2 linked regions of the Homo sapiens genome follow. The protein of the gene in region 1 purifies or fractionates together with the protein of each later gene. This does not show direct contact. Each region holds a gene or a part of one and is shown on either strand. Other genes may lie near its edges.

What was found.
Region 2: the proteins of FIP1L1 (region 1) and P4HA2 purify together in Homo sapiens (co-immunoprecipitation; 3 studies listed by BioGRID and IntAct, with this or other methods). This does not show direct contact.

Annotation. Positions count from the first base shown.
Region 1 is NC_000004.12:53,391,055-53,394,707, reverse strand, and holds part of FIP1L1 (pre-mRNA 3'-end-processing factor FIP1), read right to left. Parts: coding exon 3,569-3,653; intron 3,279-3,568; coding exon 3,210-3,278; intron 1-3,209.
Region 2 is NC_000005.10:132,203,710-132,207,362, reverse strand, and holds part of P4HA2 (prolyl 4-hydroxylase subunit alpha-2 isoform 2 precursor), read left to right. Parts: intron 1-3,210; coding exon 3,211-3,281; intron 3,282-3,515; coding exon 3,516-3,615; intron 3,616-3,653. UniProt on the Homo sapiens protein: Catalyzes the post-translational formation of 4-hydroxyproline in -Xaa-Pro-Gly- sequences in collagens and other proteins.

The DNA of each region.
Region 1 (3,653 bases):
TATAAGAAAAAAACTGAGAAAGCAACAAAATTTAGAACTTTGAAATTAGATTAAAAAATAGTAACTGACTGAGCAGACCAAAGAAAACTGAATCCTAAGTCAGCGATGAGAAAGCAAAGACAATGATTATCATGTCAGGACCCTCAAAAATTCAGAAATTAAAAGCTCCAGCTACCAGAACATTTGCATCAGCCAAGTATATACCCTCTAGATAGAATACTGGAATACCTTATCTGAAAAAATCTGATTACCACAAAAAGAAAAACACCTAAAAATACTGACATCAGGGAATGTGAAAAAACAGCCCTCCAGTGAAGCCTGCAGTCAAGCAAGTTCTATTCAGATGTACAGAGCTTCCAATCAATTTTAGCAGCCCACCGTTACATGAGTGAATGGCCAACAATCAACAAACATTTCAGAAAAGTCTAAGTCAGAAGATAAAAATAACTAACTTAAATAATCAAGTTGAAAACAGACTATGCAGGAAAAGAAAAATCTAACAGAAACAAAACAGCCTATCATTAATATCCTTTGAGAGAGGAGGGAAAAAGATATTGCATTACTGTAGGCATGAATAATAAGATGCTACAACTAAATAATAAAGAAAAATTTTCTTGGAAATTAACAACAGAAATGAAAACTAAGTACAATAACATTATAAGAATAAAAAATTCTCCCAGATAATGGAAAAGATGAAAAAGAGAAAAACAATAAAAAAAATTAGAAGACCATTCGAAGATATCCAATATTATCTAGAATAGAAAAGAAAGCAGAGAAAAAAGTAAAAGAAGAAAGTGTTCCATAAGTGAAGGATATGTGCTTCCAAATCGAGAATGCTTGGTACAATGGATGAAAACAGACCAAGACACATAACTGTAAAATTTCAGAAAACTGGTGACAAAGCTCATACATTCACAGCCGGGGGCGGGGGGGGGGGGGGGGGCCGGGGGGAAAATCTATGCATATGTGCACAAATGAATAAAAAATATTTTAAGAAAACGTTGTAGTCAACGTTTTCTCATACATACATGTTATCTATTCCCACTAGTCACTTCTCTCTTGCCATTCACTCTAATTAAATAATTACACAATTGTTTTTGTACCCAATTGAGTGGCTTTATTTTTATACCTATTAAATTTCTTTTATTTTGCTTTTTAAAAAAACTTTATTCATATTGAAGTACATAAAAGGCTGTTACCTCAAGAATGTCAAAACACTGTTAAGTGTTGAAGCTGTATGATAAGCACCTAAGGGTTCATGTGTACTATTCTACTTGTTACTGGGTTTGCAAATTGTTTAATGAAAAGTAAATAAAGTTATCTTAAAGAGGCTGATGGGCTGTCTCACACTTAAGGATGAAAAAATTCTATTTGCAGCAGATATGAAAATAAATTTTAATTCTTAAATCCACTCCTTTGCCCATTCATCCTCATAAGTGAGTTCAGGCCCTAGTTCATTTTAGTCCCATAGTATGGCAACAGCTCCCTATCTGTTTCACACCCCTTTCATTCTACAGCCCATCCTGCTGCCAGTTCCTTTTCTAAATACCAGATCTGCCACTTCATTCTACTGCTCAGGAACTTTCAAACAGCTTCCTATTGGCTACACAAATGTTTGCAGGTTAGTTTAAAATCAATGTCCTGCTCATCATGGCCCTATTTCCACCATTTCCTACGGACCACAATATACATAAAGAAAAAATGTTTGCCACACATATTCTTAATACACACCCTATTCCCAAATCAGTATTTCTACCAAACATATTAGTATTTAAACACACTATCAAGGCAAGAAAACCATGAAGACTGTACCCATCGAATTAAAATCTTTCATTCAGAATCCAATCAGAATGGAATACTCTATGACCTCCTCTCACATAGCCAAAAGAAACTTCAAAATAAATTTTTCAGTACACAGTATGTATATAAAATACACATTCATAACGGCTACCTTCAATGAGACTGACCCCTAGGAGTTTCTTTTTATTCTCTTTTTAAGTCTACTACAAAAAATGAAGTATACAGAAGCTAACAGTTTATGATGGCAGTTCTCATTTCTATTAAAAGAAAATAAAATGCACTGCTGCTAATGAACTAGTTCATTAAGACAACTTTTCTACCCATTGCAGTCAAGTTTAATATATTCAATGCCTATATAGACAATATAACCCAGAAAAAACTGATGACCCTTTAAAACACAACAGACATCATCACATACTTTCAAAATATTTGCAAAAGAAGAACCAAATACTTACGCAAAGTAGGATGTAAATTAAAATAAAATTATCTATATAGAACTGTGTACAGTAGAGTGGTTGTATCTGCAGACATAGCACACACACTGCATAAGGCAGTATTCTGGTGGACAGGGCTGCAAACCCAAAAGGGGAGCAGTGGTCTCTTTCCAGTCCACTAAAGTTCCCTGAGTATACAACCCAATCTAAAAGCCACTCCCAATCTTCATCCCAGTGTCATTCAATATAAGAGTCAACTATTAAGGTAAAGAAAAAAGAGTACACAATCAGTTTTCCATAAAAGAACTATGACAATATAGTATTATTCTTTGGACTGGGTCTGTGATCATACCATGGAATGGAGAAGCCAGAAATCAGACTTGTTATACAAGTTGTAGTATCAACCTCAAAGTCTCTCACATAAACCTACTCCTTTTAAGAACAAATTTTTAAAATCAATGGCAGTATCTCATTATGTTGAGTTCTTAAAGCCTCTCAGAGAATGCCTAAGATTTTTGAAGATATCTTGAGCTATCAGGGCATTACACCAATGATATCAGTGTTATAAGTGTCATAGAGATAAACAGTATGCCACCTTCCTTACCATTTTTTTAAAGAGAACAAAAAAGTTTCCAATTCTGTTGATAAAGATTAGAGTATTATCTACAATGAGAGCATAATCTGTTGCCACTAACTTTTCTATCCTACAAACATGTATTACGACTCAAAATGAAATCACAACATATAGCAAACAATAGTTTTACTCGGCATTTGTTAGTATAATAGGCTATAAATTCACATGCTTGCAAAAGTGGAGATAAAACAACAATCAGCAAATTTGTAAGTCACCAGGAAGCTGAAGGTTTGGAAAAAAGGTAGCTATTTCCACTTTAATCTTGTCCCTTGAGTAGTGGCATGGGAGCAGACTCAAGAACAAAAAATGAGAGCAACCAAGGATAATTTACTAAAATTCACCTTAAAAAGATTGAATCTGCCATCTTGGATCTCTGCACCTGGTGTAACTTCCATAGTACAGTCTTCGGCCTAAGTTAAATAACATATTCCCCATTAAGATACCACATAATATTTAATTAATAGGCCATATAAAGACAAACTAGCTGTGGCTAGTCTGTGATTTGAAAGTAAGAACATCAGATAATCATTAAATACGAAACTCTAAAAGGGAGGGAAGGGAAAAACAAACATGGTAAACAAAATGGAATTTTTAAACTATCATATAGCATTTAACCACTTTTATAGGGAAGCGATTTATTTGGGGAGTAAAAGTGGGACGGTAGACAAGCCAAGGGTATTCCGGAGTATTTATTAATTACCGTAATTTTATTTGTAGTAGAGGTTACTGGTATAACTTCAAGTCCCATTCGTATCCTCTTTTGTTTTTCACAGTAAGCTTTCCAG
Region 2 (3,653 bases), on another chromosome or scaffold:
CTGTGGAGCTCCTGATTAGGACTGTAAATGAGGTGAATGACTTAGAGGAGAATGTATATCTTTATAATATTGGGTCTTCTCATCCAAGGGCATGACAGGTCTCTCCATATCTTTTTAAGTTTTCTTCATATAAGCCTTGAACATTTCTTAAGTTTATTCCTTGGTAGTTTCTTTGTTACTGTTAATTTACTTTATTTCTTCATTATTATTTTTAACTGGTTACATTATTTTATTAGTTTACTATTATATGCCAAACTATTGATTTTACAAATACATTTCATAGTAAGAGCTAATGTTTACTGAATTCTTAACTGTGGCAGGAACTTCTAAGTGCTTAACATATATATTAAGTGTTATGTCACAGTTATGAACAGCTGCTCATAATGATGTCACTGTCTCTGTTTTACCTATGAAAAAGCAAACTCATACAGATTGCAGCTAGTGGTTGAATTTACTTATTTCTTTTTTGGTTTTTAGCTGATTTCTCTTTGGTTGCCTGGATAGCATTAACACCTGGAAATAAGGAAAATTTTATTTTCTCCTGATACTTGTAGTTCCTTTGTTTTTATAACCTTATTGAATTGCCCAGAACTTCTAGAGCATAATTACGTAGAATAGGCATCCTTGTCTCATTCCTGAATTTCCTGGAAATTCCTATGGTATTTTACTGCTAAGAATGCAGTTGGCTGTTGGTTTTGTATATATGCCATGTTTTAAAATTATTCTTCTGTTTCTAGTTCATAAAAGATTTGTTCCCCATTTGACATCTTTCAAAGAGACCTATTTGCTGCCATATCCCATCACTGATGATTGGGAGGGAGGATTTAGCTCGATTCTCTATTGCTCTGCTCCTAATAGAATTGTAGGGGCCGAGGTGACCAGGAGGCCCGACACTCATGGAGAGACCTGAAATAGGTTCCTATCCTGGCCCCTGGACCTCATCTTGGAACAGCTTTGGCTTGAGGTACTAGGACATCTAGGGCTTTGAGTCAGTGGTTGGCATCATCGATGTGGCTGAGGAAGGGGGCTAGCCAGATATATGGAGAATGGGGACTAGGACTCCCCTTTCTACTCAGCTCCAGAGTCCTCCAGGAAAGAAAACTACTTTGTTGGTTGTGCCAGGATTTCCTGAGAGATTTCTTACCCGTTCTTCAGTTCCAGACACTGAGAACATTTCTCTGTGCATGTGTGCATATGTGTACACATGTGTGTGGCTGGCCAGAGGGTAGTGTTAGGAAAAGATATATTTGAATAGAAGCCATGCAAAGAGCCAAACAAGGTTGGCAAACATGTTTGGCTCTTAACATGGCTTCTATTCAAAGATAAGCTGACCCCTCCTTTCCGGAGACTGTGAGGGACAGATGCTATTCTGGCTTTGAAGTAGAGCCAATGAGCTTAACTTGGCCTGTGGGGAATGCCTGGCAGCTGTCTGTGGGGTCTCTGGCCTGCTTTCAAAATAGCCCTGTGCTTCCCCTGGGGCAGAGCACAGCTGCTCAGAGCCTCTTTGTGGGTGTCAGGCCAATGCTGAGGCACAGATGTTTGGATGGGGTCTGGCTGTGGCTGCAGTTTTCAGGGAGGGACTGACATGAGCTGAAGCTCAGGAAGGGCCATGAGTAGGAGCTTGGGAGCCGTCTGTCCTGCTTGTGCTGGCCATCTTACCAGATCATGCCATAGCAGCACAGTGTCCAAGTTGGTCCATCTCACCCCCTTACTAGCCTTCTGGTCCATCTACTCCTCTCCATCCCTTCTGCCACCACCTGGCCCGGGCCACCATCATCTCTTGCCCTGACCTCTGTCGTGGCCTCACTAGCCTCCCAGTCCCCACTCTGGCCCCTCATTAGTCAACTCTCCATGAGGTATTCACAGTGATCCATTTTACATTCACATTTTGAGTGTCCCTCCCCTGCATAAAGCCTTCCCCATTTCTCGTTGGCCACAAGGTTGCATCTAGTTCCTAGCCCCTGCTTGTCTCTTCAGCCTGTTCTCTCTTACTACTTCCCATAACCTTTAATCCACACCTACTGCAACACCCATTTTCATTCCCAGGCCTCTGGATTGCTGCTCTTTCCCTGTTCCTGTAATGTTCCTCTACTTGGATAACTCATGTTAACCCTTCAGGCCTCAGCTAGGTGGTCTCCTCCCCTAGGAAGCTATTCTTGACACTATACCCTGAGCTTCCACAGGATGGTAAGTTCACCCATGCTGTGCTGCAGTTACCTGACTGGTTTTCTGCTTTCCCCACTTGACTGAGTTGTAAGAGTGCAGGGGCCATGTCTCAGTTACCTAGCATAGTGCCAGGCACAAAGTAGGCACTCATCAATATTTATTGAAATCAAGGGGAAGTGTGTTGGGGTGGGAGTACCTGGGCCTATGGCCCCACCCATGTGAGGTCATGAGGACAGTCCACAGCTGAAGCACATGGACCTTTGCCATGTTGGCTGGCTCTGGGCGGCGAGTCCCCCTTGGGGTTTCACTAAGCCTAACTGTGGAGGCTGGGGGAGATGAAGTAGATGCAGGGAGTGCATGTGTAGTGTGTACCTGTATGAGTGGGTGGCTTCCAGGCAGTGGTTCACTTATTTTAACTTACAGAATCTTTTCCTGGTTTTATCATCTGACTTGTAAGGATCCCAAGGGAGCGAAAACTGTGCCATCTGTCTTTGCTTCTTGAGGCTGTGGGAACCCAGTGTGAGGTGGTGCAGCAGGAGAGTGTTTGGATGGGTTTCTTGGCAGAGGAGCCCACTGAGGTTCGGAAGGATGGTGGAACTTGACTCAATTGAGAGAAGTACATAAGGCGGAGGCTCAGGCATGGTGGCACAGTCTGAAAATGGTGGGAGTAGCTAAGCTCAGGCAGGCTGTGCTCAGGCAGGGGTGGTATGTGGGCCTGGCAAGGAAAGGGGCTAGTCAGGCAGATGCATGGGTAGACAAGGCAGGCATAATTCTGCAGGCAAAGCGGACCTGGGGAGGAGAAGGGATGAGCAGTGACCGAGCAGGGCAATAGCCAGGAACTGATTGCGGATTGGGAATGTGGAGGCCTCAGACTCTTGCCCTCAACTGGCCTGCAGGATCTTGGGGCCTTGGCTAGAGCCATTGGCTGCAAAGCTTCCTCCACTAGCATGGCAGTAAATCTGGTCCCAGTGCTCTCTGGGAAAATATTCAAGGCAAAACAAACAAACAAACAAATCAAGTCTTCCCTCTCCTCCTTCCTTCTAGCTTGCACGAGCCACCGTTCGTGATCCCAAGACAGGAGTCCTCACTGTCGCCAGCTACCGGGTTTCCAAAAGGTAAGCAAAGAGCAGGGGTTCGTAGCTGCTCAAGCCCCAACTTCAGGACTTCTCAGTGCCTACCCTAGGGATGGGTGGCTTGCCTTTTCCTGCCTGCTGGCACCTCCTCACCCCCTTGCAGCAGGCATCCTGTACTGCCTGTTCATGCTGGCCCTGACTCTGGGGACAGAGTTCAGGACCTCATGGAAGCCTGCCCTTCCGTCTTCTTTTCTCTGCCCTTTTCTTTTTGCCCAGCTCCTGGCTAGAGGAAGATGATGACCCTGTTGTGGCCCGAGTAAATCGTCGGATGCAGCATATCACAGGGTTAACAGTAAAGACTGCAGAATTGTTACAGGTACAGATAGTACCTGGGACTGTAGGAGTTGGGAAGTG